7 separate regions of the Homo sapiens genome follow, and all the other regions are reported to be linked to region 2. The links are microRNA targets in miRTarBase. Many come from high-throughput screens and were not tested one by one. Region 2 holds a microRNA gene; each other region holds the end of a gene's coding sequence.
Evidence for each region. Region 2 holds the annotated microRNA hsa-miR-423-3p (AGCUCGGUCUGAGGCCCCUCAGU, at 833-855, shown strand). A microRNA usually pairs through its seed, bases 2 to 8, with sites in the 3' UTR of a target mRNA and lowers its output. Matches are read on the target gene's strand: a 7mer-m8 pairs with bases 2 to 8, a 7mer-A1 pairs with bases 2 to 7 and ends in A, and an 8mer does both.

Region 1 (4,431 bases), not on the chromosome of region 2:
TTTTTTTTTTTTTTTGAGACGGAGTCTTGCTCTGTTGCCAGGCTGGAGTGCAGTGGCGTGACCTCTGCCTCCCGGGTTCAAGCGATTCCCCTGCCTCAGCCTCCCAAGTAGCTGGGATTATAGGCACGCACCACCACGCCTGGCTAATTTTTTTGTATTTTAGTAGAGACGGGGTTTCACCATGTTGGCTAAGATGGTCTCATCTCCTGACCTTGTGATCCACTTGCCTCGGCCTCCCAGAGTGCTGGGATTTCAGGTGTGAGCCACCATGCTTGGCCTAAACAGACTTAACTTTTAGACACTGACAAAACTGAAGGCATCTTTCTGACCAATCACCTACTCAGGATCCCTCCCCCAATGTTTTACCAGTATATTCTGATAAAAGTTCTAGAGTCCGTGAAAGAAACTAAGGATAAAAGAAAGTCCGTGTCAAGTTGTACATTATACAGATGCCTATAAATTTTATTCATTTCCTAAGCTTACATCAAATTCACAACTTTCTTTTTTTTTTGAGACAGTCTCGCTCTGCCACCCAGGCTGGAGTGCAGTGGCACGGTCTCAGTTCACTGCAACCTCCACCTCCTGGGTTCAAGTGATTTTCCTGCCTCAGCCTCCTGAGTAGCTGGGACTACAGGAGCATGCCACCACGGCCAGCTAGTTTTTGTATTTTTAGTAGAAACGGGGTTTCACCATCTTGGCCAGGCTGGTCTTGAACTCCTGACCTTGTGATCCACGTGCCTCAGCCTCTCAAAGTGCTGGGATTACAGGCGTGAACCACCGCGCCTGGCCCACAAGTAACTATTGTTGCTTTTTCTAATTTTCTAGGATTTTATTTTTTTAAATTTCTTTTTAGTAGAGATGGGGGGTCGGGTCTTGCTATTTTGCCCAGGCTGGAGTAGTGGCACGATCTTGGCTCACTGCAACTCTGCCTCCTGGGTTCAAACAATACTCCTGCCTCAGCCTGCTAAGTAGCTGGGATTACAGGCATAAGCCATCACACCCAGCCTTGAGGATTTTCTTATACTGTGTTTGAATCCACATGACTGATAATATGCTTAATGTTTGAGAAATTATAACCTTGCAATTGAGGTTAATGATCTACTAACTACCTTTGTGTTGATCAGATTGTGTACAATCTGGAAAAGACAACGACTAATCCAAAGAAATGAAACTACAGAATTTCAGGCATTGTAATTATACCTGTAAGAAGTTAACCTAGCAGAGAAAACGTTTAACTATCCCTCCCATCACCATCACCATTCATTCTATTTGACAAACAGGAGGCATCCAAATATTTGCTAGGGGAAAGTCATCCCTGATCATCCATAAATCACACTGTAACAATCTCTTCTCAACAAAGCCTGCAGTAACTAAACCTCAGAAGTTCACTGTTATAAACTTTTTCTTTCAACTTTACAGGGGCTGTTTAGAAATATATGGCCAAATCTGTAACCCGGAAACAGCAAAAAACTTCTTAGCAAAGGATCACTAAGTACCCTTTGGATGTACTCTTCCAACCAGACAAGAGTGCCAGAAACTTGGCAAGCAATTCATCCTGTGGAAGTTGCAAATACTGGCTGACCTGCTTAAAAAGATTCTAGAGTTGGCCGGAGGCAGAACATGTCAACTCTTTGCTGGATTCTATTTCATCTGCTGTTGATACTGATCTCAATGCACCAAGGAAAGGAAAGATGAGCCTCCTGTCTTCCAGCAACAACCCTCACATATGCACTGAGTGAAGGATGAATGTATGGACACATCTGGGAGTATTTTAAAGAATGTATCTTGCCTTGTGTTGACCCAAACCAAAAACATTTTTGAGGGGCACATGTGGGGTCAAAAAGATAGCCAATTTCCATTACATGGGTTTACAATTTCCATTCTTTTGTGCCACGAGTGTTAGAATTTAAATGAATACTTTTACAAAGTCTACTTTTTGTTCAAGGATATGCTGACCCATATAGTTTACTCTTAAAATTGTGTCAAGGTATTTCTCACTATACTCTAAAACAACTAGACTTGAAAAGAAACCATTTGAGATTTGAATCTAATGGTTAACGCTATTCAGATTTTCCCAAAGATCTTACCTCATGAAAGTAGTTCTGGGTCAGAATGATCTACTCAGTTAAAAAACAACAACAACAAAAAACTAAGCGATTGGGAAAAAACAGGAATTTTATCTGGTTATTGCATCTGGTGATAGAGGCCTTCAAAGCCTATTATTTCTAACCTAAGTAAAGGCCCCAGTGAAAAACATACTGGGGAAATAAAACCTCTGAGAAAAGGTTCAAGCACCTTTTCCAAATTTAAATCTTGCCTTAAATTCTCTCTACCACACTGCCTTTGACACTCTTGGAAGTCCATGTAGTTCTCTACAGATAGACTTCAAAGAAACGTTACCTTATCAAAGACTAATCTGTGCCACCTCTGATTCAGTGTTTTATGTCTTTCACTTTCCCTGGGAAGGAGTAAAGTTCTTTTCTACAGCTCTGGGACTATTACATTTAATTCTGCTCTTGATAGTCAAAGACCATGGACAACAACTGTCATCTGAAGGACTCTTCTAGAAGCCAGAGACTGGTGTTTGATGGATGTTTTATACTAAATAAAACCCATCAGCATGGGGTTATGTAGAAAAGCAATTTATTCCATTTTAAGCACTTACACAGTTAGTCATGGAGAGTAACAGGCCTGCTGGTGAAACAGGTCACCCAAAATGGAGATGGCATCAAACTAGTGGTCAAGGACTAACTCCTAAAAAAAAAAAGCAACTCTTATCAAGGATTAATTTAATTTTTAAAACAAATACAAGTTATTGATTCACTCTTCTCAACTTGACAGTCTACCTGTGGTATAACTGTCAGGTAAAAACATACATCTTTACAACTTGGTGGTCCCAAGTTAAAAAAAAAAAAAAAAAAACCAACAACAAAAAAAAAAACACCATTTCACAGACAGGAAATAAACAACATGAAAACAGCTCAAGAAATACACTAACGAGCAAAAATATATGAATATATGGGGAAAGAGGAACGTGTTGTTTTGACTTAACTGAAGAAACCAAGAGGAAACTGGTCTACGTATGAAAATGTGCATCCTGGAAAGTCAGGTGTCAAGATTTTCGAGTAGGAATCTATATGACTTGAATCTCCCCCTATTTCCTGAATAAAAGTGACATCTTTCAGTATTTATACTTCATGGCTCAGACACCTACCTCATTTGGCTCTATTCCTTACTCACTCTAGCCTTTACTTAAATGAGTCTGAAAAACTTGGGGATATAGCATAAGAAGAAAAATAATCACACATAATATTCCCCTTTCTGTAGCTACTTTAGACCTGGGTTACTAGAAAATTCCTGAAGAAAATTTCAACGTTAAGTCTGTGGCTTTGTTGAATCAAGCCCCCCTATTAATATTTAGAAAACACCCACGGTTTGGGCTAATAGCATTATCGGTGGTACCTATTATATAGAGGGATAGCTGAATAAAGTCTGTCTCAAAACCAGTGTTAAATCACTCTCAGGGTTGAGAAGAAAAAAGGGGAGTCTAAAATCACAACAAGTAAAGACATATCTAGGACCCTTGTCCTTCTGGATCCACGCTTCCTTCAGGGTCTTCATCATTATAAATGTTCTCTGCCTGCCCAAAAACAAGAAAAAGAATTTAAACATGAAGACTTCTTCTAAAACTCAAGGTTTCAACAACAGATTAGGCCAGGAAGCCAGAGAGTAAATACTTTATAGCTTTTGGGCCACACAATCTGTGTTACAACTATTCAACTCTTGGATGAAAGTATCCGGAGACAACCTATAATGGGTAATGAAATATTAATTAGCATGATCATGTTCCAATAAAAATAAGCAGCTGATCCCCAGACGCCTGATTAGGACATTCCCACAAAACTGCAGTGTGGATACTATTTGTCTTGATAGCCAACATTCTTGAGTTCTTTAACCAGGCATTATTATTTTTCTTTCCTTTTGAGATGGAGCCTTGCTCTGTCTCCCAGGCTGGAGTGCAGTGGCACCATCTCGGCTCACTGCAACCTATGCCTCCCAGGTTCAAGCAATTCTCCTGCCTCAGCCTCCAGAGTAGCTAGGATTACAGGCACATGCCACTACGCCTGGCTAATTTTTGTATTTTTAATAGAGATGGGGTTTCACCATGTTGGCCAGGCTGGTCTCGAACTCCTGATCTCAGGTGATCTGCCCACCTCGGCCTCTCAAAGTGCTAGGATTATAGGAGTAAGCCATTGTGCCCAGCCTAACCAGACATTATTAATAATAGCCAAAAAGTAAAAACAACCCAAATATCCATCAACTACTAAAATGGATACACGGTATATCCAATCCATATGATGGAATATTATTTGGCATAAAAAAGCCAGTCAGGCCAGGTGTGGTGGCTCATACCTGTAATCCCAGCACTTG
Region 2 (3,000 bases):
AAAAAAATTTTTTTTTTAATAATAATTTTGGTCCTATGTAAGGTATTATTAATACACAGATTTTCATTTTTCGCCTAATTATCCTGAACCAGTTAAAGTGAACACTTGGAAGGGGGTAGGGGGAATATCGATAGCCATGGCAGTGGTTTTCAAACTTTATCAGAATTACCCGCTGGTTAAAATTCAGATAACTCGCTTCACTCCAAAGTTTCTGATTCTGCAGGTTTGGGGTAGGGCCCGAGAATTTGTCATTTTAACAGTATCTCCGGTGTTGCTGATGCCGCTGGTCCCAGAACCACACACTGCGAACAACTGGCCTAGAACGTTGTCATTCCTTTCTCCTACAGATTTTGAGGCAGCCGGTGGGCTCCGAAACAAAACAGAGGTCACTGGATCCGATTCCCAGTACCATAGAAGTGACTCAAACCAGCGATTCAACCGACAAGCAGGATCCGGGCCACCCAAAGCCGCGCGAGAGTTTACGTGACGACATCGGCGTCAGCGTCACGGAGGCGTCGGCCACGTTCAGCGGACACGGGAGCAAGATGGCGATTCCGGGCAGGCAGTGAGTGATCCGGGAGTTAGGGTCAGGCTGGGGGATGAGAAACTACGGCGACTGTATCTTTGGCCGAGGAGTTTTAAATGCGCTGGAAGTGAAGGGACTGTGTCGTCAAGGGTAGAGACGGGAAAAAACGAGAAGTCCTGAGGAACATAGATTCCCCTCCCCCGTACATTTTCCCGGATGGAAGCCCGAAGTTTGAGGGAGAAACTTGTGAGGAAATAAAGGAAGTTAGGCTGAGGGGCAGAGAGCGAGACTTTTCTATTTTCCAAAAGCTCGGTCTGAGGCCCCTCAGTCTTGCTTCCTAACCCGCGCTTGAGTTTCTCCCCGCTTGGATGCTCTCAGGGGCAGTGTGAAGAGAGACAGTTCCTGGCTTCCTTAGAGGGCCTTGTTCTCCTTGGCAGAAGCTCAAGTCCTGATTCCCGCCCTTCCTTCTCGTTTTAGGAATATTGTTCTGAGAAGCCACAGAAAAAGGGTAGGCATATAGGAAATTGGGGTATACGTTGCCGCAAAAGAGACAAATACTGTACGTACTTGAAAGTTTTACCTTTGATGTGTAATCCTTACTTTTGATGCGGCCTCCCGTGATCTCCGCATCTTAAAGGCCAAAACGTGAGAAACTAAAGGAGTTGGATCTGATGGGATGGTTCTCTCAGATGCTCCGAGGCAAAGCACATGATCTTAATAAAGTGTAATGCGAACTTGCCCCATGGCTACTTGGGTTTCTCAGTTATCTTTTAAAAATTTTCGTGAGTTACACTATCCAGTCAGTTCTTAGAAACTGTGTAAGTACACAGTAGGAAAAAAAATCTAGCCATTTTCTTGACTGTTTAGACCACAAGGATAGTTGAAAGCATTTTAAAATCTTTAGTGGACATGAACTAAACTTTCCACTACACATGTTTTTTTTTTTTTTTTTTAAATGTTACTGTCACTTCGCCATCTTAAAACATTTCTGAACTTTTCATTTACTTCTCTTCTTTGATAAAAATGGTATTCGAGTTTGGCCCGTGTCCACAAATGATCACTTAGAGTAGTAATTATAGAATCTTACGGCATGTTAGAATTTTGAGATCACTGAGAAGCAAAAACAGTCTGTTACGTGTTCATAAAGCTTATGACATGTTTTGATTTGGTAGCTTCATGTGGAAGAGGTAGTAGATGTATTTGTTAACATTTAAACATAAAGGTTTAATTTCTATTTCAAAAAAAATATATGCAGGTATGGGCTTATTTTGCCAAAGAAAACACAGCAGTTGCACCCTGTTTTGCAAAAACCATCAGTGTTTGGGAATGATTCTGATGATGATGATGAGGTAAGGAAACCTATGTTTTACTCGTGCATGGTTGGAAATGTAAATTTTTTAAAAATTGAACTTGTGACTCTGATACCTTTGCCTTTGTTATTTGTCAGTACAGTGGAGTATAATTTACAGAATTGTCAAAAAGGAAGGTGTAAAGAAAGCAGCTCCACCGATTTTTTAAAGATTTTTTTCCCTCTAAAAGCTGCAAACTTTACCTTTAAACAAATACACGGTCTTTTCAGACTACTGAAATTGTCATAACAAAATTGTTGGTGTAAAGATCCCTAGGTATGAGTTATTAAGATGTCACCAATTTTCTACAAATTTTTATTAGCAAAGCAGTTTTTAATTTGTTAACCATGAGCTAAGATCACTATATAACAGTTCTTAACAACGCTACTTTTTTTTTAAATTCAGTGTCTGCCAAATGTAATTGCTCAGTTATAATCGTGGTAGTGAATAGTTACTCTTGATAGTACTACAGTAACATCTAATATCAACATTTTCTATTTTAGCAGCCAAAACTACTTCTGTGAAACCCACAGTTATATATCAGAAACAATCCCAAATGTGTGCTTTTCTTTTCTCTTTTTTTTTTTTTTTTTGAAACAGTGTCTTGCTCAGTTGCCCAGGCTGGAGTGCAATGCCGCGATCTCGGCTCACTGCAACCTCCGCCTCCTGGGTTCAAGCGATTCTCTTGCCTAATCTTCCTGAGTAGCTGGGATTACAGGCACCTGCCATCATGACCAGCTAATTTTTGTATTTTTGTAGAGACAGGGTCTCACCATGTTGGCCGGGCTAGTCTTGAACTCCTGACCTCAGGTGATCTGCCTGCCTCAGCTTCCCAAAGTGCTGGGATTACAGGCGTAAGCCACCGCACCCAGTAAATATGTGCTTTTCCAATACTCCCATCATGTTTTAATATTTTTTTTTCTTTTTTTTTTTGAGACAGAGTTTCGCTCTTGTTACCTAGGCTAGAGTGGGATGGTGCAGTCTTGGCTCACTGCAACCCCTGCCTCCCAGGTTCAAGTGATTCTCCTGCTTCAATCTCCTGAGTAGCTGGGGTTACAGGTGCCTGCCACCATGCCTGGCTAATTTTTATTTTTTTATTTTTTTGTATTTTTAGTATTTTTAATA
Region 3 (4,283 bases), not on the chromosome of region 2:
TAGAACTCTGGGACTCTGACAGCCAAAGAGCTGGTAAACTGGCTGAGGTCCCAGGGGAGAGCTCTCCCTCAGAGGGGCTGGGGCAGGGCTCTCCTCCAATTTTAGATTAGTTCTGACCAGCCCCATTCTCTGGAGGAAAACTTCAACATGGAAGCATCTCCTGAACTGGTACAACTCTGCTGAGGTCTCCCTGAGGCCTGGCCTAACCCAAAGTGCAGCATCGGCAGAGTGCTGCTCTGCCAGTTGAGAGGGGTGTGGTGGGGCACGGGAGCTGGATTTTGTAACGCTCTGGGGTCTGAGTTCAGGTTGCCCAAGCCCCACTGGCCAAAAGCAAAGTGGTGATGTTGTCAAAGCCTACTCACCTGCCACATCCTAATCTCAGCTCCTCTCTCTCCCACCCTCATCCACCTCCCATAACATGCTTTAGTCCCACCCTACTGTCAGTTATTCCTGCAAAGAATACAACTTACAGCCGGGCGCGGTGGCTCACACCTGCAATCCCAGCACTTTGGGAGGCCGAGGTGGGTGGATCACGAGGTCAGGAGATTGAGACCATCCTGGCTAACACGGTGAAACCCCATCTCTACTAAAAATACAAAAAAAAAAAAAAATTAGCTGGGCATGGTGGCGGGTGCCTGTAGTCCCAGCTACTCAGGAGGCTGAGGCAGGAGAATGGCGTGAACCTGGGAGGTGGAGATTGCAGTGAGCCGAGATCGTGCCACTGCATTCCAGCCTGGGCGACAGAGTGAGACTCCTTCTCAAAAAAAAAAAAAAAAAAAAAAAAAAAATACAACTTATGAGGGACCTCTTCACCAAAGTACCTACATTTTAATGGAACACTCTGTAAGGCCCAGAGGAATGACTCCAAAGCTATATATACATACATACATATATATATATATATATATATATATATATATATATATATATATATATATATATATATATTCTAAAGCAGTCTTCCCTCTGGCACCCCCTCTTCAAAGCACCCCATCTATAGATACTGCCAGGGCCATCTATCTTGTTAAGTCTCAATTTCCCCAGCAATAAAAATGAGCAGCCAAATCAGGTCATTTTCCAGGTCCCTTCCAACTTTGATGTATGAGGTCTTAGACTTGAGATTCCACAGCCTCCCATTCTGAGAGTGCGGAGCTGGCCAGCCCTTGTTAGGAGGCAGCTCGTCTGTGGTTTGGCACTACTGCCCAGCAGGCATTTATTAAATCAGTGTGATATGGTCCCTGCTGGCCTGGAAAAAGAACATTAAGCTCCAAAAACTTCATGCAGCAGGCCTCCTTCAGAGAATGCTGCTCAGAGGGTGAGGAACAAAACCATTCAGGCCCCTGGCTGTGCTCCAAGATCCTGTTCACTAGTACTTTTGCCCTGTCTGCATGGAGAACTGGGGACTAAAAACATCTGGAAGTCTGCTTAAGACCTGGGCGAGTTGTCTTTTCTTCCTTTGGGGGTGGCTGTTCTTGACCCTGGTAATCCAGGCTGACCTCTGCCAATGCCCCTTCACTTCCAATCTTCTGCACTTCATTGGGCAACAACTTTCTAATAAAATCCACATGAATCCAGCTGCTAACAGCTCCTGGAAGGGCTGTGGGATCTAACACCTGCTCCTGCATTCCTTGAGCCCTAGTAGCAAAGGAAAACAGGGCTGAGACCCAGCTCTTGCACCTCTGAGTCTTACAGTGGAGTTGTGGACAAAAAGAGTAGATAGGAAGGCTGGGCGTGGTGGCTCATGCCTGTAATCCCAGCACTTTGGGAGGCCGAGGCAGGCAGATCACCTGAGGTCGGGAGTTTGAGACTAGCCTGACCAACATGGAGAAATCCTGTTCCTAGTAAAAATACAAAACTAGCTGGGCATGTTGGGGGCACATGCCTATAATCCCAGCTACTCGGGAGGTTGAGGCAGGAGAATCACTTGAACCTGGGAGGCAGAGGTTGCGGTGAGCCGAGATGGTGCCATTGCACTCCAGCCTGGGCAACAAGAGCGAAACTCTGTCTCAAAAAAAAAAAAAAAAAAAAGTAGATAGGAAGAGAGAAACATTAATGATGAGGTTTTGCTGAGGGTGGGGAAGGCAGCTGCAGGTGAGGAATGCACAGGTGTAATGATGTGACTGCTGGGTGGCCCAGCAGATTCCTTTGGGTCTGGGCTTGCCTCATTCCCAGTGACCTTAGTCATGTTAACAAGGCTTATCACTCTGGGAGGCAGGCCTGGTCTGAGAGGACAGAGTACACGTGTCACTGACCTGGGGGTCCAGGGTTGCCTGTCCCTCCTCTCTCTGTTGTGACTTGGGGAGTCTAAAATTCTTTCTGTCTCTATTTATTTATTTATTTGAAGTGGAGTCTTGCTCTGTTGCCCAGGCTGGAGTGCAGTGGTGTGATCTCAGCTCACTGAAACCTCTGCCTCCCGGGTTCAAGTGATTCTTCTGCCTCAGCCTCCTGAGTAGTTGGGACTACAGGCATGAGCCACCATTTTTGCATTTTTGCTAATTTTTGCATTTTTAATAGAGACGGGGTTTCACCATGTTGGCCAGGCTGGTCTTGAGGTCCTGACTTCAGGTGATCCACCTGCCTTGGCCTCCCAAAGTGCTGGGATTACAGGCGTGAGCCACTGCGCCCAGCCTATTTATTTATTTTTGAGACAGTCTCACTCTTGCCTAGGCTGGAGTGCAATGGCACCATCTCAGCTCACCACAACCTCCACCTCCCAGGTTCAAGCAATTCTGCTGCCTCAGCCTCCCAAGAAGCTGGGATTACAGGTGTGCACCACCATGCCCAGCTAATGTTTGTGTTTTTAGTAGAGATGGGGTTTCACCATGTTGGCCATAATGGTCTTAAACTCCTGACCTCAGTTATCCACCCACCTCAGCCTCTCAAACTGCTGAGATTATAGGCATGAGCCACCACGCCTAGCCAGTCTCTAATTATTTAAGGTAATACTTTCATTTTTTGAGACAGTCTCGCTTTGTCGCCCAGGCTGGAGTGCAGTGGCACGATCCCAGCTCACGGCAACCTTCATTTTCCAGGTTCAAGTGATTCTCTTGCCTCAGCCTCTCGAGTAGCTGGAATTACAGGTGTGTGCCACCACCCCCAGGTAATTTTTGTATTTTTAGTAGAGACAGGGTTTCACCATGTTGCCCATGCTGGTCTCAAACTCTTGACCTCAAGTGATCTGCTCACCTAGGCCTCAAGTGCTGGGATTACAGGTGTGAGCCACCGTGCCTGGCCCTATTTAAGGTAATATTTACTGAGTACTTACAACATATGTGCCTGCTGCTGGTGAAAGATATATTAGTGAGTAGGACAGACCCAATTCCTGCACTCCAGTCCCACTCACTTGGAAATCCTGACTATGGGTCACAAAGTCTCAGGGCCCCTGGTGGGGGTGGGGTGGGTGTGCTTGGCATTCCAGAGGCGAGAGAGCCATCCTGCCAGTGCTGGGTCTCTTCCATTTGGATCCCTAGCTCTTAAGTTCTCTGGGGATACTGTATGGACACAGAGTTCCCTCTGGTTAAGGTCAGAACTCTGATTCACTTCAGCTTTCTTCTCTCCACCAATGCCAAGAGTCCAAGAAATAAACACAACAGGTTAGAAGGACAACCTTGAGCTGCTTGAGGTTTATTTATAAAGTACAAGGTACACTTACTGGGCCTGGCCTTTTTAATTTTTACTCTTTTGCCTTCCTTTCCACCCAGCCAAGATTTTTGCTTGCTCTCACCTGGGAGTTGAGCCGATTTCACAAATCTGCTCTTGGCTGTCATGAGCCAAATACCAGCACAACCTTCCCTGGACCTGAGGGTGGCTTCATCTTAGAAGGCCCACAAGGATCCTGCTGAAGCAAATGACTCTGCTCCAGTCAGCTCAGGCCTCTATGGAGCAAAGAAACTGGTGTCCTTCTTGGAGCGCTGCCTTCATCTCCTTGAACTGAGCCAACTGGCAGGCCTCCTCCAGCCCCAGCCAGCGGTAGGCTTGGTGCTCATGGGAGAGGCGGATCTCCACGTCATAGTCCTTCACCTCCGCCAGCCAGTAAATGACTGTTTTAGGCTTGTTCCTGGCCACATAATTGAGTTCCCTTTTGAACCCCTCAATAATGGTCAGCTGGCCTGCTTCTATGCCTGCTTCCTCTTGGGTCTCCCTCAGGGCTGTTTCCAAGTCATCCTCTCCTGGTTCCACATGGCCTAGTTAGGAGAAAAGAGGAAGAAAAGGAGGAGGAAATCTTCCAAAGTTCCCAAAGCTGGATTTTCCAGACAAGATTTTTTTTTTTTTCTGTTTTGCTT
Region 4 (3,000 bases), not on the chromosome of region 2:
GGAGCAAGCTGTGGGAGATGGACAATATGCTCATCCAGATCAAAACGCAGGTGGAGGCCTCGGAGGAGAGCGCCCTCAACCACCTCCAGAACCCGGGCGACGCGGCCGAGGGCCGGGCGGCCAAGAGGTGCGAGAAGGCCGAGGAGAAGGCCAAGGAGATTGCGAAGATGGCAGAGATGCTGGTGGAGCTGGTCCGGCGGATAGAGAAGAGCGAGTCGTCGTGAGCGCGGTCGGCGGTAAGTCGGGCACCCGCGCCAGGCCGAGGAGCGGCCCCAGCTTGGCCGCTCTTCGAGAGCGATGATTTCATCGAGATGCACCGGAATCGGGGGTGGGGCGGGAGAATAAAGGCGTGCTCGGGTCAGGGCCGATCTGGGCCCCGTCTTCGTGTTTTGTTTTTTGACGGTGGCGGCGTGGGATAATCAGAGTGGCCGGGTTTGGGCGTGATGCGTGTTCAGTGGAAGGGTCATAAATCTCAGAGTCGCCAAGGAAACAGAAACGGACAAGGTCCCGGGCCGTCCAGCAAGCGGGGGTGGAAATAGAGGATTTTCGGGGAAGACGTTGGACAAGTCAACGTTGCTAGAGACTGGAGTGAGTCAGGTGGTGGCCAGAAGAGGTGGCGTCCTGCACAGTGGCGTTCGTGAGGGTTTGGGGGTCGTTGTGCCTGGGATTAACCTCTCGATGATGAATTTCTTCCCATTGTGCTTTAGGTTTCCAGCCAATGGATTCTGGTCAACTGGTGGAGATTGGCTGACACCCTGGAGAAGCCGAAACCAGAGAGCCTTTTGTTTTCTCTTTTTTCCTGTCTATGCTCTGTCTCACTTAACACTACGTTTTCTGCTATGGTCTGTGGTTGATGACCTCAATATGAGTTTCGATTGTTAACGTGTTTTTGTTTGGGAAGTAATTTTGTTTGAAAATGCTCTCACATACAGGAATTAGGGCCTAGATTGTAAGCTCTTGCAGCAGTCACATTTGTTCCCGGGCTTTGGTGGTTATTTCTAAATTTTTGAGGTGCTTTGCTATTTCTTGTGTGACCTGATAGCTCCCTGGAACTTTGGGTCTGTGTGTGACACATGAGACTCACAGTTGGAGTTCTCCAGCTCTGGAGGTGCTGAAGGAGCTGCATTAATTCTGGAAGACGACTCCATGCAGCAACTACTGAAGAAAGGACCAGACTTCAACGGGGAGTGTGGATGGGCCGACCTGGCTGGGACTCGTGAATCTGGAGAAGAGCTGGAGAATGGATAGTATTGTCTGTATTTGGAGACTTTAATTTCTGTGTGAGACCAAAGGAGGAGAGATGTGTTTTGTTCAAAATTTAAATTTGTTGTGGTACACTATCTTATGTAACCTGTCTGGTGAGTTTGTTTGGACAACCTAACTCAGCTTTATTTGACATGGAACCTAAAATAGAAGATAAGATCTTGATATTCTGTACAAGTTGATGTAATACCCTGATGCGTTTTAGAGGACTTGGCATAAAATGAAAGATTGGCAAAGGCCCTTGAGGGGCTTGGGGATGACAGTATGGAACTGTCTGCATTGGACCCTAAACTGGACTAGAAGAGGCATCTTCAAGGTTCATACGTTGTCCAGCTGTAAGTTCATTTGAGTAGCAGACCTAACAAATATTTGAGGTCAGAACCCTACCATGTTAAAACAAACAAAAACTTACCATGTTAATAAAAGTATTCATTTGCTTGAAAAGACGAAAGACCTAAAAGGTTATTGAGAAATGTTAGTCCTTTAAGAATGAAATCTGCTGTCTCCCAGATGGTTCTCACTGTCAAATGGAGGGTGAACATCTTAACGGTTTCTGAGGCTCTTAGTCTCTAATCAAAGGGAAGCTTTCTCTCTCTGCTGTTGGGAACCGGGTGAGGAAGAAACACACTTGGTTCTTAGTGTGGGAAGAAACCACATGTAATCCTGTGGTCCAGGCCTCTGCCTTCAGAGAGCCAAAGCACCTTCAGTCTTTCCAATTGGAACATTGTTTTCTAGGCCTTGCACTGGGAATATAGCGATTACAGTTGCAGGGTGAGGGATGACATAGAGGAGATGTGATACCCCACCCTCCTTCCAGATTGAAGCCTTTCTGCCTCAGCTGCTAGAAGTGTTGCTGACAAACACCCTTCAGCTGGTTAGCCCTCTGGGCAGTGCCTTTTCAGAGGAGAGCTGCGTTAGCCAAAGTCATGCCCTTTTCCCTGGGTAGCCTACATCTAGTGAGTAATGGGCTGGAAATCTCAGGTCGCTATTTCTCTTACCCCAATTTGGGACAACTTTGAGGGACATGGTGGCTTCTGAGCTTGTGGGGTCTGCTGAGGCTTTTGTTAGGATTACATCACGCAGCCCACCTCCTCCCCCGTCCCAGCCTTGCATTCCTCCTCTTCCACAAGTGTTAATCCCTAAAAAACGTGCATCTAGTTTTCATCTTGGAGTCCACTTTCTGGGCAACCTAGTTGGTAGAAATCAAACAAAGCCATGTGTCCCTAGCACTAATAAAGATAGAATGTCCCAGGAGAACACTTGAGGGGGAGGTCTAGGAAAGCTTTCCAGAGCAAGTAACTCTTTCAGAGCTTGGCCTTGAAAGAGGAGCACAGCTTCCGAGGTCAGGAAGAGCAGGAGAGGCATGCTAGGCACAGGAAACAATGGAAGATGTTCAAGGTTTTCTGTGTGAGTTCCACACAGAGGAGGGAGAAGAAATGTATAGGACAGAATTATGAACTGGGAAACAACCACGAAAACTACATTTCGTACATTTGCCAAAACAAGAAATGTAACATTGGTACAACACTACCAACTAGACTTTTCTCTGCTTTCACCAGTTTCCCCACTAAGGCCCTTTTTCTGTTCTGGGATACTACATTGCATCGGGAAGTCGATTGTTTTCAATGAGTAAGATTTATAAATGACACGAAAGTGATCCTTCATCTCTCCCCAGCTTCCCAGTTCCCCTCTCAGGAAACTAGAAGTTTCTTATACATCCTTACAAATACTAATGTG
Region 5 (4,431 bases), not on the chromosome of region 2:
ATGGGTGGTGAGGAGGCGGAGGCTGTTCCGTGTGAGGTTCCTCTTTCAAGAAATGTGCTGCCAAGAGAAGGGGCAGAGAGAGGATGGTGCCTTGAGATCTGAGCCTATGGTGAGGGAGCAAAGGAGAGGGGAGGGTACCCTTCAGAAGGGCATAAGCGCTGTAACAGCGTCCACAGGAGGTGGACAGGGCAAGGTCAGGAGCACTGGGGGCGGGACCTCGACACGAAGACACGCTCACTTCTTCCCGAGAGGCAGGACAAAATGCATCCACCAGTCACTGGGTCCCTATACATGGCCGGCCATCCACATCCGTTACCTCGTTTATTTCTCCCCAGACCTCAGTGAGGTCGGCATCATGATCTCCATTTTCCAGATGAGAAGACTGAGTCTTGAAGAGAAGTTAATAACTTGCCCCAAATCTCACTCACTTAAGCGTTAGAGGCTTGAAAACTAGGTCTATTGGTGTTTTTTCCCGTTGAGGGAAGAAAGAAAAGGAAGGTGACACACTAAGAGAATTCGAGTGAAAAGGGGGAAGGTAAAGGAACGTAGATAACTGGGAGCTCATAAAAAGGGTCTGAGATCAAAGGAGCCCCCAGGGCAGCTGGAAGCCTTGATTTGGGAAGCCGGGTCCAGCAGTCACCTCCACCTTGATCTCTGTGCTGGGCTTTTGCTGCCATGCACGGCTCCTGTACAGCCCTGAACCTCCTGCCTCCTCGGAGGCTCAGGCATCCAGTTCGGCCACTCTCAGCCCTGCCAGAAGTGCAGCCTCCCTGTGAGAGGGACACCCTGCAGGCTGCACATGCACAAAAGGCCTGGGGAGGGCCTAGGCGCCAGGTGTCTCAGTGCAGCAGCCCTGCCTTCCTCCGTCTATGACGTGTGCCCTGGAGGCTGGGCGCCAGTTATGGGGCACTCAGAGTGTGCCAGGAGCCGTGCTGAGCCCTCAGCATCCATCCTTCTCGTCTTCCCCACCTCTGATGTGTATATAGTATGTCTACTCTAATATTAGATAGATAGAATTCTATATCACACATTATCCTCTCATTACACGTATGTGATAATCGTCCTCCTAGAGATGAGCAGACAGGCTCTGAAAGAAGGCGTGACATACCCAGTCATGCAGCTGGGATCCAAACCCAGGCTGCCTGGCTTCAAAGCCCACAGCCGTCCACTGCACCTGCCTTCCCTGCCCCGTGGGGAGCGAACAGAGGGTCTGTGGTCGATGGGGAGGGGCCCCCCAGCTGCCTTCTGTGCTTCTGTTGGCTCATCTGTGTTTCTCCTCCTCCAGGATACTCCAAGCGGGCCTGGACGTGGAGCGTCTCTCCCTCAGGAATTTCTTCCATCATTTCCATTCCAAGCGAGGCATGTGGAGCCGTCGCCAGATGAAGACGCTGTAGCCGGAGGGTGTCCGCGGGGCCCAGCACTCCCCGCTCTGGACTAGCAGTGGCTCCCCAGGGCCCTGCTACTGTTCAGGGATGGGGAGTGGGGTGACGGCTGGACCCCAAGAGGCCTCGAAGCTGACGGCCCACTCCACCTGGAGCTGTCCCCTCACAGAGGCAGGTTCCGGGGCTCCTGTCTCTGCCTCCTGGGCCTTCAGAAGGGAGGACTTTGAGAGAGAGGCCAGGAGGGACCACTTGCTCAGTCGAGAACGGGAAGAGCTCCTGAGAAGGACGGGTCAGGAAGGAGAGATCTGACTGAGCGACACCATCCTCATCCATGAAGGTGCACGCCCACATCCCCCAAGCGCTCCTCACGCCAAGCGCTGACCACCAGACCCTCTTCTAGTGGACATATTTTATTGGGGGGCGGGGATTTTAAAAACAGAAAACCGAAACTGCTGTCCAGAGCGGGGGTGAGGTTGTGCACTGAGGGACTGTCCCCACGTGCAGGCCTCCCGCCCACTCCTATGTCCCTTGGGCGTTGTCCCTGGCCGCGGGACTGGTCCCACGTGGGGCAGGTCTCTGCTCCACCCCAGGCTCGTGCCTTCCAGAGACACACATCTCCCAGTAGCCACCAAACAGCTGGCCACTGATTAGGGCATTAACTTCCTCCGGATGGCTCACGTCAGACCAGAAGCACAGAACGGGCTGTTTCTGGTGCTTGGGCATTGGGAGGTGGGGAGCTGGCGGGCAGGGGGCTTGCCACTCCCTGGCACTGGACATTGAGGCCTGCAGAACAGGCAGGGTGATGAAGGCAGGGGAGAGAAGCCCTTTCCCTTACCGGCGTGCCTGTGGGTAAGGCCTCCCGAGAGGACATGGAGAAGAGGTAAAGAGGATGTGGACATATCTGTCAATTTCCTTAGGCAAGAAGCGGGTGGGGGCTGGACAGAAAGGGACGAAAAGGGAAGTGGAAGCTGTGAGCCTCACAGTCCAGCTCCACTGCAGACCTGCCCTTCTGCAGGGAGAGCCCTGGCCACCCGGCCTTGAGTGGAAGAAGAGGAAAGGGTGTACGGGGGCAAAACCCTGGACAGGGAGCAGGATAAGAAGGGGGCGGGATGAGAGGTTTGGGGAGGTGAGGACATTGCCCTGAGATATCCCCTGGAGGCAGGGAGAGGAGTGGGGGCAGGAGGAACTGAAGAGGGGGGCAGTTTCAGGGAAAATAGCCCTTAGCCTTTTTAGTCGATGCCACCCTTTCTGTCACCTGGAGACCTTGTACTTCTCTTGCACTAATAACCCCGGTGCTTTTGTGGCTGGGGGTTTTTCTGTTGCTGCTGCTGCCTCCACCACTGCTGTGAATTCACCCATGGTGCATTGGACACTGGATCTTGAACTCCAGAGTCTGTTTAGGGAGGTGAGCACAGGGCTGGGGGAGGTGCGGCGGGGCCCAGAAGACCAGGCCACTGAGCCCGCGCTCCAGGCTGTGACGGTCCAAACCACGGCACTGGAGCTGCAGGGTCTGCCTAGTGGGCTCTGCATTCCCCGAGAGCACGAGTTTGGCACATGGGAGAATGGAGCCCGTGGAGAACCTTCTGGGGGGTCGGGGAGAATCCCTGCCTCCCTTTAAGGAATCATGAAGGACAGAGACTTTTGAGATTGTGGCTTAGGAAGGCCATACCTGCTCCCTGGGCTGTGGCTTTTTCTGGTCCCTGCTGAGGCCGACTGGCCCCTGGAGAAGGATGGTGGGGCATAGGCTAGGGCTGCAGTTGGCCAGTGGGGCTGCCAGTTTCTTTCTGGGACCACTCTCGTCCTCGGGCATTGCACTGGAAGGCTGGAACCAGCCCAAACTGCCCACCTGCTTCACTTCCAATGACTAGGAGCCAGCCCAGCCTCCTGCCCTGCCCACACCCCTGCGCCCTGGGCCAGTGCCTTGCGTTTGATGTTACCTCCACACCATCTGCCTTAAGAGGAAGGGCCGGGCAAGGCCCCTACTCCCTAGAGAAATGTCTTGGGTAGGAGAGGGTGTGGGATGGTGGGAGGGGAAGCATTAAATACAGCAACTTCTTAGAAAAAAAAAAAGGTGCTTGTCTTTTCCTGTTGCTCTTCACGGATGTAAAGGATTGGGCTGAGGGGCCCAGGTGGGCGTGCCAAGGACCCTCCCACACCACCCTCCACCCTTACCACAAGTGTGATGCCTGCTGTGTGTGAGATGGCCTTCTCTGCACTGCGGTTTACTCAGGAAGAAGACAACATTGTTCCTGTCTGAGCAGCTCACCGTGTAATAGACTAGGCATTTTCTGTTCAGCAGATTAATGGAGGTTGGTGGTTTTAGCCGAGGAAAGCTATGGATACGCTGGGTGGAGAAGGCTAGATATAGGGCCAGAACGGTTTGGTGAGCAGTGGAGAGAAGCCAACGAGTGGCTGCTTCTAAACTGGCAGACCTTCTAAAAATCATTTCTGTTTCTGAGTTGGCAATGCTTTGCTAATGCTTTACAGATTTACCTTCCTCGTTATATTTGGCCCAGGCAAAGATCAAAATGAGTTTGCAGTCCTTAAACACATGCCTAAGGGAAGCTGAGACTGAAAGCCAGAATAGCTTACAGCAGGTTCGTGGAGAAGATTGTGCATATGTGCATCCACCTGCAATGGACTAATCTACAGTTCATGGGGCAGATGACGATAAGCGCAAGACATCTGGGCCAGGAACATTGGCTCCGAGCAGAACCCACAGAGGAGGAAGTAATTTAAAAGCCTTCCCACCCTCCAGGTCTGGGGTTTGCTCTCTTGAGCCCTCTCCAAGGCACAGATGGAGACCAGCCTGGATGCCTGAGCCTGCAGGACTAGACAAGTAAGTGGACTCAAGAGTGGATTTGAAGAAACCTTTATAGATATAGATTCCATTTTACAAGAAGGGAAAATTGAGGCCTGGAGCAGAAGGAAGCAGTGGGGTAGAGTCAGAACCAGCATCCTTAAGCCGGGCAGACTTGGCCTTAGACAGACATGCCTTACTTAGGTCCAGCAGATGCTACCAGGAAGGTATGGCTGGCAGTACCTGCGT
Region 6 (4,431 bases), not on the chromosome of region 2:
ACTTGGGAGGCTGAGGCAGGAGAATCACTTGAACCCAGGAGGCAGAGGTCACAGTGAGCAGAGATCACGCCACTGTACTCCAGCCTGGGCGACAGAGCAAGACTCCGTCTCAAAAAAAAAAAAAAAGTTGAGATTTTAGTCGGGCGCGGTGGCTCACGCCTGTGATCCTAACACTTTGGGAGGCCGAGGCAGGTGGATCCCTTGAGCTCAGGAGTTCAAGACCAGCCTGCGCAACATGACGAAACTCCATCTCTACAAAAAATACAAAAATTAGCCAGGCATGGTGGCGCACACTTGCGGTCCCAGATATGTAGGGGGCTGAGTTTGGAGGATCCCTTGAGCCCAGGAGGTCACCGTTACATGTGGGCGGCAAGCCACCCAGGTGCCGAGGCAAGAGACCGAGGGCATGAGCTGTTCCAGTGTAATAAAGAAAATATACACAATAAGAATAGTTACACTAGAAATAGATTATAGATGTGATGATATATGAATATTCTTAATCATTAGTTTCTAGCATTACTCTTCATTCCAATATTATAATAATCTCTGTTCTACAACTATAACCTAGGAAAAACCAGGCCATACAGAGATAGGAGCTGAGGGGACATAGTGAGAAGTGACCAGGAGACAAGAGTGTGAGCCCTCTGTCACGCCCGGACAGGGCCACCAGAGGGGTCCCTGGTCTAGCGGTAGCGCTAGCGCCTGGCAAGGCACCAGTTACTTAGCAGACGGGGAAAGGGAGTCTCCTTTTCCCCGGGGGAGTTAGAGAAGACTCTGCTCCACCATCTCTTGTGCAAGGCGACATCAGTCAGGCCCACCCGCAGCCATCCAGAGGCCCGTCTCCCCGTGATGCTGTGCTTCAGCGGTCACACTCCTGGTCTGCTTTCGTGGTCCGCCCTGTACACCGGGCTCCGCCTTCTAGATAGCAGTAGCACAATGAGTGAAAGTACTAAAAGTCTTTGAAATACATAGAAGAAAGAATGGTGTAAGCTGTCCTCTCTCTCTCTCCGCCTCGGCTGCCAAACAGGGAAGGGCCCCCTGTCCAGTGGACACGAGACACACGTGACCTTACCTATCATTAGAGATGGCTCACGCTCCTTACCCTGCCCCCTTGCCTTGTATCCAATAAATAACAGCGCAGCCAGGCATTCGGGGCCACTACCGGCCTCCACATCTAGGTGGTAGTGGTCCCCCGGGCCCAGCTGTCTTTTCTTCTATCCCTGTCTTGTGTCTTTATTTCTATGATCTCACATCTCTCCGTACACAAGAAGAACCCACAGGCCCAGTAGGGCTGGACCCTGCAGTTACAGGGAGCCATGATAGCACCATTGCACTCCACACTGGGCAACAACAGAGCAAGACTTTGTCTCCAAAAAACAAAAAAACAAAGTTGAGATTTCACATCTAGACGACATTTGAGACAGGGTCTGGCTTCGCTGCCCAGGCTGGATTGCGGTGGCTCCATCATGGCTCACTGTAGCCTCCACCTGCCGGGCTCAGGCAATCCTCCCACCTCAGCCTCCTGAGTAGCTGGGACCAAAGGTGCACATCACCACACCAGGTAGTGTTTTGTATTTTTTGTGAGATGGGGTCTCACTACATTGCCCAGGCTGGGTTCAAGAGATCCACCCCTCAGCCTCCCAAAGTGCTGGGATTATAGGCGGCAGCCACTGCACCCGGCAGTAGCGTGTTGAGTAAACACTCTATTCGTTAGCATTCCCCCTCCCATGAGCCTCGGGAGACACCGGGCTTTGGAAGTGATGCTGGCGGTCACAGAAGCGGAGATCAGGGCAGGGCTGGCATCCAGTACGGGATGGGGAGAGAGCCCTGCAGAGGGCTCTACACCATGGCTCCAGCGACGCGATTCCCTGTGGGGACCCACCTGCCCTGCAGCTGCCACACCACCCCAGGCCAGCAGGTGTGACCCCCTGGTCACGGGCCACCCCAGCCCTGAGCACAGAGATGGACACACATCCCGGCCCACACAGACACAAGCAGCATGAAATTCAGAAATAAAGATATAATGAAAGACCTTTTTTTTCCACAAGAATAGGTTAAATACATACAATTGGTAAATTATAGAGCAATTCTGAATAAACTGATCAAAAAACGAAGAAAGATGAGCGCGTGCGGGCTGGGCTTGTCTCACGCCCGCCTCCGGACAGGGTGGGTTTCTTGCCGGCGGCCGTGCCCCACCTCGACGCGATGCACCTGCGGTACATCCCACCCAGGCGAAGTCACGGAACAGACGCAGAAGAGGGGAGACGGCCGAGACCCGGGGAGCCACGCGGCCCGAAACAGCCCCTGCTGGCTCTGGCGTCTTTCCGGGCCGGGGTGCCCCTCTGCCATGTTCCGTGGACAGCGAACACCCGGGCCGGAGCCATTACCTACTGTGAAGGCCAGCGCAGGGGGCACGGGATGTGAGGGAGGCCCCCGAGTGCACGGGGCCTTCTGCAGGGACTCCGGTCCTCCGCCTTCCACCAGCATAGGAGGACGGGCTTCTGGCCCACCGGACATAAGGAATTCAGAGAAAAGGCTCTGCAGGTACCCAAGGCCCCCCAGCCTGCAGCACCGAGGGGCGCCCAGGAGGCCCGGCCTGCGGAGGGCACCGGCAGCCCCCGCCCCGCTCGCGGCCGCCGCAGTCAAGGGCGACTTGTGGTTGGAGTGAGCAGGCTCCTGGCTTCCAGGGCAGCAAAAACCCCCAAGCACTTTCTAGAAGGAATGTGTTTCATTCTGACTGTAAACACATTTGTAAATGCTGAGACCAAACCCCGACTTATGGATCCTGAGCCACGGCCGTCACTGGCCCCGCTAAGCCTCATCACCACACGGCCAGGCCAGACCAGCACCCGCGGACGCCAGCTCCACCCCTGGGCCCCGAGGTTCCCACCCGCTGAGGAGCCGGGAGCTCCGAGAAACGCGCCAGGAGCTCCAAGAACGCAGGAGCAGCCCGCGGTCGGCAGCAAGTTTGCATTTCTAAGTGACCACATCTAATAAAATGAAAAACGGGTTTACTAAAACAGGTCCAAAGACAACACGGAAGATAAGCTACAAATCCAGCACACAAGGCCCACCCACACCAGCCCCAGCGGCCCGTGGCCAGGACAGGGCTGAGGCTCCAGTCTCCTCCAAAGCCCAGTCACACATTTTGGTTTTTGCTTCCCCTTTCAGGTTTTTAAAAGCTAAACCTAGGAGCCTGGTGGGTCTGCCTGTGCTGGGCAGTGTGTCCAGCCTGCCGAGGTCACGCTCTGGTGCGCGGTGCCCTCAGTGGCGCCTTGGGTCTCGGCGCCTGGGCCTCACTCCTGCGCGATGCTCCTCAGCACGTACTTGACCGTGTAAGCAAAGGCTGCAAACCCAACTATCACAAACAAGTTCGCCAGGGCGCCACCCAGGAGTCCGTGGTGCCGGTTGGCCTGCTGGAGCCCTGCGAGGTTTGGGACGGCCCCCGGCGCATGCCCGTTGAGCAGCTGAATCCCGTTCTGGACGAGGTGCGTCTCCCCGTCTGGAACCACGTCTGGCAAGGGGAGAGTCTGGGGTCTGCTACTGAGTTCGTCTTGTGCTTTCTGTTTTTGTTTAATCTCCTAAGAGAAAAACAGCGAGAAAAGCAGCTGGTCTCCAACCAGCGCCTTTCAGGACCAGCACTCCCGTTCTCAGGAGTCCACGGTCCACCACCAAGAACCAAGCCCTAGGCTGTGTCAAATTCCGACCCCATCTCACAGGTGAGGGCCCGAGCGTGGCCGGCCTCACTGGCCCTGTGCCCCTTGGCCCCTGCACTCAGGCAGACCAGAGCAAGGCTGAGCCACAGAGGCCAAGACCAGGGAGCACTCCAGTCCCAGTCCCACATGGCAGCCGCTGTGCCTCCCAGCTATCCCCAGACACCACCCAGCTGGCTGCTCAGAACCACGAGCTCCACGCCCCTGTGGGACAGGCCCAGCCCCCGGCCCACCAGCACAGCTGTCCGCAGGCCACCCCCCAGAGCCCAGGCTTTCTGCCTCCCCTGCCTCGGGGCTCCTGGGGGAGAGGAGCCATCCCCTGGGGAGGTCTGCAGCTTCAGGACACAGATTTTACTCTTTGGAAAGAGGTGAAACTCAAGTGTTTTAACGCAGGGGAAGGCGAAACCCACTTCCGTCTTTCTTACCTCCACGACTTCAGGAAATAATTCACAAAAGACTTTATCTTTCAAATTAAATGCTAAACTCTGCACTGCCAGTTGTCTTTTCTAGGAAGGAAGGGAAGGGAATCAGCCAGAAAACTAATTTCAATTCTTTCAAGATTCTAAAAACAGATGATTTCAAAGTCAAGGGCTGCAGTCTTCGTGTTGCAGAAAGCATTTAATAAGCACACTCTTCACAGCAAACTAACTTATAGTCTTACAAAGCCTTCTTAATCTTCCCCCCATCAATTCATGATATCACACTTGATTCCTATTAA
Region 7 (4,224 bases), not on the chromosome of region 2:
AACTGTGCCTCTCAGAGCACCACCAGTACCAGGACCACCACTACCCCCTTCCCCACCATCCACCTCAGAAGCAGTCCCAGCCTGCCACCCGCCAGCCCCTGCCCAGCCCTGGCTTTTTGGAAACGGGTCAGGATTGGCCTGGAGGATATTTGGAATAGCCTCTCTTCAGTGTTCACAGAGATGCAACCAGTAAGTGTTTGGTGATGAGCCAGGGTCTTTGTTGACGGATCTGAAAAGTCCTGGTATCTAAAACCCAGTTGCTAAGCCAGCCAGTGTTGCTTACATGAACTGTTACTGACTTACCTGGTTATTGATTCATAACATGCATTGGTTATTCACATTGTTAGCCATTGATTCCACCTATTATTTATTGAGCAACTACTGGTTGGTCATTAGGTAAAATGTCTTACTGCTCATTAGGTGATTATTGACCAAATAGTTAAGATTGGAAATATTTTTTTTTTTCAAGACAAGAGTTTCACTCTTATTGCCGAGGCTGGAGTGCAATGGCGTGATCCTGGCTCACTGCAACCTCTGCCTCCCAGGTTCAAACAATTCTCCTGCCTCAGCCTCTTGAGTAGCTGGGATTACAGGCACCCACCACCATGCCCGGCTAATTTTTTTTTTTTTTTTAGAAGAGACAGCATTTTACCATGTTGGCCAGGCTGGTCTAGAACTCCTGACCTCAAGTGATCCACCCGCCTCGGCCTCCCAAAGTGCTGGGATTATAGGCATGAGCCACCATGCCTGGTCTTGGAAATTCTCTGTTTTTTTCACAGACAAGATCTCGCTATGTTGCCCAGGCTGGTCTTAAACTCCTGGGCTCAAGCAATTCTCCTGCCTCAGCCTTCCAAAGTGCTGGGATTACAGGCATGAGCTACTGTGCCCCTGACCATAAGACTTTTTTTTCGAGACAGGGTCTCTCATCACTCAGGCTGGAGTGTGGTGGCGCAGTCACAACTCACTGCACCCTCCATCTTCTGGGCTCAAGCAATCCTCCCACCTTAGCCTGCTGAATAGCTGGGACTACAGACGTGCACCACCATGCCTGGCTAACAAGATCTCGCTATGTTGCCCAGGCTGGTCTCCAACTCCTGAGCTCAAGGATCTGCCCACCTTGGCCTTCCAGAATTCTGGGATTACAGACATGAGCCACTGTGCCCGGCCCATAAAGTCTTTTTGATGCACAGATAATTAACAGATATGAAGGATCTTAATCAATTAATAGTTTTGACCTAATACAGCTTAACAGCAACAAGTGCCAAAATTTGAGGTCTTACTATGTGCACTTTACCTGAATCGATCCTCACATCCTATGAGGTATTATTATCCCTGCTTTTCAGATGAAGAAACTGAGGTTTACAAAGCTAGTAAGTGGCAGAGCCACGAGATTTAAACCAGGTTTGACACCAGTGCCCACTCTCTTCACCACTACCATTTGGGAGTACTGTCCTTCCAGGACAAGGAAGGATAGTCCTCTGCTTTTCCCAGAATTAGCAAAGGTTCTGATTGACTTGATAAGGTAGTCTCAATTGATACGGATGATAGGACTTTGAGGAGGGAAAGGTAATAAAGCTTACACTTGGTCATTTTGCTTGTTTCTGTTTTTCTCCTTGTGTGTCCAATACCATTATTGCATACAAAAATAAGTAAGGGGTGGGCAGTAGGGTTGAGGGAATATGGGTTTGTGGGAGGGGGAGATGAAGCAAGGAAGGGAAAAGAATATAGATGTGGTTGTAATTTCCCTTTTTCTCTATTTTTTTTTCTTACGCAGATAGACAGAAACCAGAGGTAATGGCCACTTCATCCACATGAGGAGATGTCAGTATCTCAACCTCTCTTGCCCTTTCAATCCTAGCACCCACTAGATATTTTTAGTACAGAAAAACAAAACTGGAAAACACATTGTTTGGTCTTGTGTTTCTTTACAGAGGTACCTGAGGGAGGAGAGACATAAATCCCTTCATCCCTAAGACTGAACTATGTAACTAGCAGCCTCTGGCTTGTTTTCTACTCCCTGTCCCTCAGGATAAAATGTTGATATTGCTCATTTTCCTCATTTCCAACATTGTTTTAAAACAAGTACTTCTTTTACAGGCTTGAAAAATCTCAAATAAACGCTAAGAAAAGGGAGTAGGAAGAACAAGGAGTTGAGCCCTTGAAAGATGACAGTGGTCTTCTTGCCTTCATGCTTGGCCCTCTCTCCTCAAAAGGGCAATGTTGGTACAAAATTCCATCTCAGCCACTTTCGAGGAGTTATCTTCATTAGCTATATCCATCCTTTAATCCAACACACACCTGCAATGATTACTGTGCAACTATTTTGCTTAATTTTTTATTTGAAAAAATGTATTTAAAAGTCCAACAACTTTTTAATATAAATTACGACTCTCAAACCCATTCCCATCACTTTATTAGTGATGGTAGCATACATATTAGAGAAGGTAGCTAAAGGCAAGAGAGCACCAAAGGAAAAAGACTGTCCAAAGAACAGGTATTAGAATGAGGCCGAAGATCACGGTGACCAGAGATTTCTAGGAGTCTCTAACCTTTCCACCCTATCCTGTTAACCCTTTAGATCTCTAGTATAACACTCAGGCTACTGAGGTATTTTAGAGCAACAAGCTGGGTTACTTTCAGAGCAACCAGCTTGACTGGAACTGAGAGTAAATTGGGAATGTATGACCAATCTTAGACCCTGAAAAATGGCAGAAAATACATGGAAATTTGAAAAAAAAAAAAAAAAAAAAAAAAAAAGAACCTCAGTCACTGTTCTGTAGGGATAAGCAAACTGAATGGGTGGTGGAATTGGCAGAATGGATACCAGTTCCTACATTCCTGACCCCACTACCATAAAACAGGATGTTTCCTGTTGCAAAGCTAATGAGACCCCACCCTTCTTGTCTCAGAGCAGGCAGGAGCTCATCTGTCTTGTTCTGCCTTCCTAATTACCCTGGAAGGGCCAGAACGAAGAACACCTGAGAATACTGAAAGTGCCTAAAAACCCCTGCTCCTACGTTGTTTTCCCATTTAAAGCAGACTCTTCAGCCAGGGGGCAGTGGGACCTGGTCTTCAGACAAAACTCCCTGAGTCTAATGTGTGTCTAGGACTAGGGCACAGAAATAGAGCTTAAAATTTGGGGAGGATAAGGAGTGTATCTACTGCTTCTCTCTCCCCTTTCCCCAATCCTACCATACCCTGTTCATATCTCTACACTGCAGGAACCACTTCTCCAGAGGGCAAGAATGGAGGAGGGGGACCTGTCCATCATAGCAACATGCAAACACAAGCAAAACACTGAATAAAGAATTGTTTGGAGATTATGTGCAGCCCTACTGAGCCTCATTTATATGGGCTCCTAGTTGATCCATGGCTCGGGCTTAAGATGAGTAAGATGATGAGGGTAGCGTGCCAAGCAGAAATCACTTCAGAGAAAAATATCTTGACTTTAGAGTTGTGGTTCTCAAATGGAGGCGATTTTGCCCCCTAGGAGAAATCTGGCAATGTATAGAGACATTTTTGGTTGTCATAACTAGAGTGGGCCAGGGTTGCTGCTAAATATCCTGTAATGCACAAAATAGGAAACAGGTTTTCCTTACAAAGAACACTTCAGCCCAAAATGTCAAAGGCATCTCGGTTGTGAAACCTTGTTCTAGAGCCTCTCCCTGCTCCCGTGCTGTGAGGATCTTAAGACTCCTAAACTCACAGATGATTGTTTTCAACCTATTTATCTCACCATCCTCAATGATCAGAAGTCCACCTTGAGATGGACTTACTCCTAGTTCTGCCGCATTCTGGGTTTCTTTCCAGACCCCTCTTCCTCCTCTCACCTGGGCCAGCAGGGAGGTTGGCAGAGGGCAGGAAAGATGCCCCAAAACTTAAATGGAATGTCATCAGGTGAAGAGCTACCTCTTACCTTAACTCTTATTCGGTGGGAAACAAGGTTCCTAATAGGGATAGAGTTAAGGGCGGAGGCAACAGCAGGATGAGGATAATTAAGAGAACCTGAATTAAATTTTTAATATTTTAAAAAAGGAAAGTTGCTGGGAAGCTGGTAAACAGAAACAGAAGATTAGAGGCCTAACTAGAAAGAGACACTGGTGTTAGCAGAGAGATATTGAGGGGCTGTAAGCCTAAGGTTTGAAATCTAAAGATAGAGTGGAAAAGGGAGTAGGCACCCCCACCAGCCCCTGCTTGACATCTGCTTTAGTTCATTCCAGCAGG

Region 1: miRTarBase lists RBBP4 as a target of hsa-miR-423-3p. The part of its 3' UTR that is shown has no 7-base or 8-base seed match.
Region 3: the mRNA of NUDT2 is a reported target of hsa-miR-423-3p. The part of its 3' UTR that is shown has no 7-base or 8-base seed match.
Region 4: miRTarBase lists MRFAP1 as a target of hsa-miR-423-3p. The part of its 3' UTR that is shown has no 7-base or 8-base seed match.
Region 5: the mRNA of B4GALNT3 is a reported target of hsa-miR-423-3p. The part of its 3' UTR that is shown has no 7-base or 8-base seed match.
Region 6: the mRNA of UBE2J2 is a reported target of hsa-miR-423-3p. The part of its 3' UTR that is shown has no 7-base or 8-base seed match.
Region 7: the mRNA of C1orf56 is a reported target of hsa-miR-423-3p. The part of its 3' UTR that is shown has no 7-base or 8-base seed match.

Annotation. Positions count from the first base shown.
Region 1 is chr1:32,678,849-32,683,279 of GRCh38, reverse strand. It overlaps RBBP4 (RB binding protein 4, chromatin remodeling factor), which reads right to left. Exons shown (of 12, transcript NM_005610.3): 12 at 1-3,640. The coding sequence ends at 3,575. It overlaps SYNC (syncoilin, intermediate filament protein), which reads left to right. Exons shown (of 5, transcript NM_030786.3): 5 at 1,420-3,374. The coding sequence ends at 1,430. Among named protein-coding and RNA genes, the nearest start is that of SYNC, 22 kb to the left of the region's middle.
Region 2 is chr17:30,116,299-30,119,298 of GRCh38, forward strand. MIR423 (microRNA 423) reads left to right here and starts at 781; the gene lies at 781-874. NSRP1 (nuclear speckle splicing regulatory protein 1) reads left to right here and starts at 518. Exons shown (of 7, transcript NM_032141.4): 1 at 518-565; 2 at 1,782-1,875. The coding sequence starts at 546. MIR3184 (microRNA 3184) reads right to left here and starts at 862; the gene lies at 788-862. RefSeq lists enhancers at 29-1,228, 261-380, 401-500, 531-630 and silencers at 343-944, 881-950.
Region 3 is chr9:34,343,025-34,347,307 of GRCh38, reverse strand. NUDT2 (nudix hydrolase 2) reads right to left here. Exons shown (of 5, transcript NM_001161.5): 5 at 3,609-4,184. The coding sequence ends at 3,868. Among named protein-coding and RNA genes, the nearest start is that of NUDT2, 16 kb to the right of the region's middle.
Region 4 is chr4:6,641,023-6,644,022 of GRCh38, forward strand. MRFAP1 (Morf4 family associated protein 1) reads left to right here. Exons shown (of 2, transcript NM_033296.3): 1 at 1-236; 2 at 708-1,707. The coding sequence ends at 224. Among named protein-coding and RNA genes, the nearest start is that of MRFAP1, 1.8 kb to the left of the region's middle. RefSeq lists a silencer at 631-700.
Region 5 is chr12:560,058-564,488 of GRCh38, forward strand. B4GALNT3 (beta-1,4-N-acetyl-galactosaminyltransferase 3) reads left to right here. Exons shown (of 20, transcript NM_173593.4): 20 at 1,286-3,452. The coding sequence ends at 1,394. It overlaps NINJ2 (ninjurin 2), which reads right to left. Exons shown (of 4, transcript NM_016533.6): 4 at 4,239-4,431. Among named protein-coding and RNA genes, the nearest start is that of NINJ2-AS1, 69 kb to the right of the region's middle. RefSeq lists an enhancer at 2,692-3,193.
Region 6 is chr1:1,251,907-1,256,337 of GRCh38, forward strand. UBE2J2 (ubiquitin conjugating enzyme E2 J2) reads right to left here. Exons shown (of 7, transcript NM_058167.3): 6 at 4,139-4,219; 7 at 2,006-3,581. The coding sequence ends at 3,297. Among named protein-coding and RNA genes, the nearest start is that of C1QTNF12, 7.4 kb to the left of the region's middle.
Region 7 is chr1:151,048,664-151,052,887 of GRCh38, forward strand. It overlaps C1orf56 (chromosome 1 open reading frame 56), which reads left to right. Exons shown (of 2, transcript NM_017860.5): 1 at 1-189; 2 at 1,775-2,757. The coding sequence ends at 1,795. CDC42SE1 (CDC42 small effector 1) reads right to left here. Exons shown (of 5, transcript NM_020239.4): 5 at 2,322-4,224. Among named protein-coding and RNA genes, the nearest start is that of C1orf56, 3.0 kb to the left of the region's middle.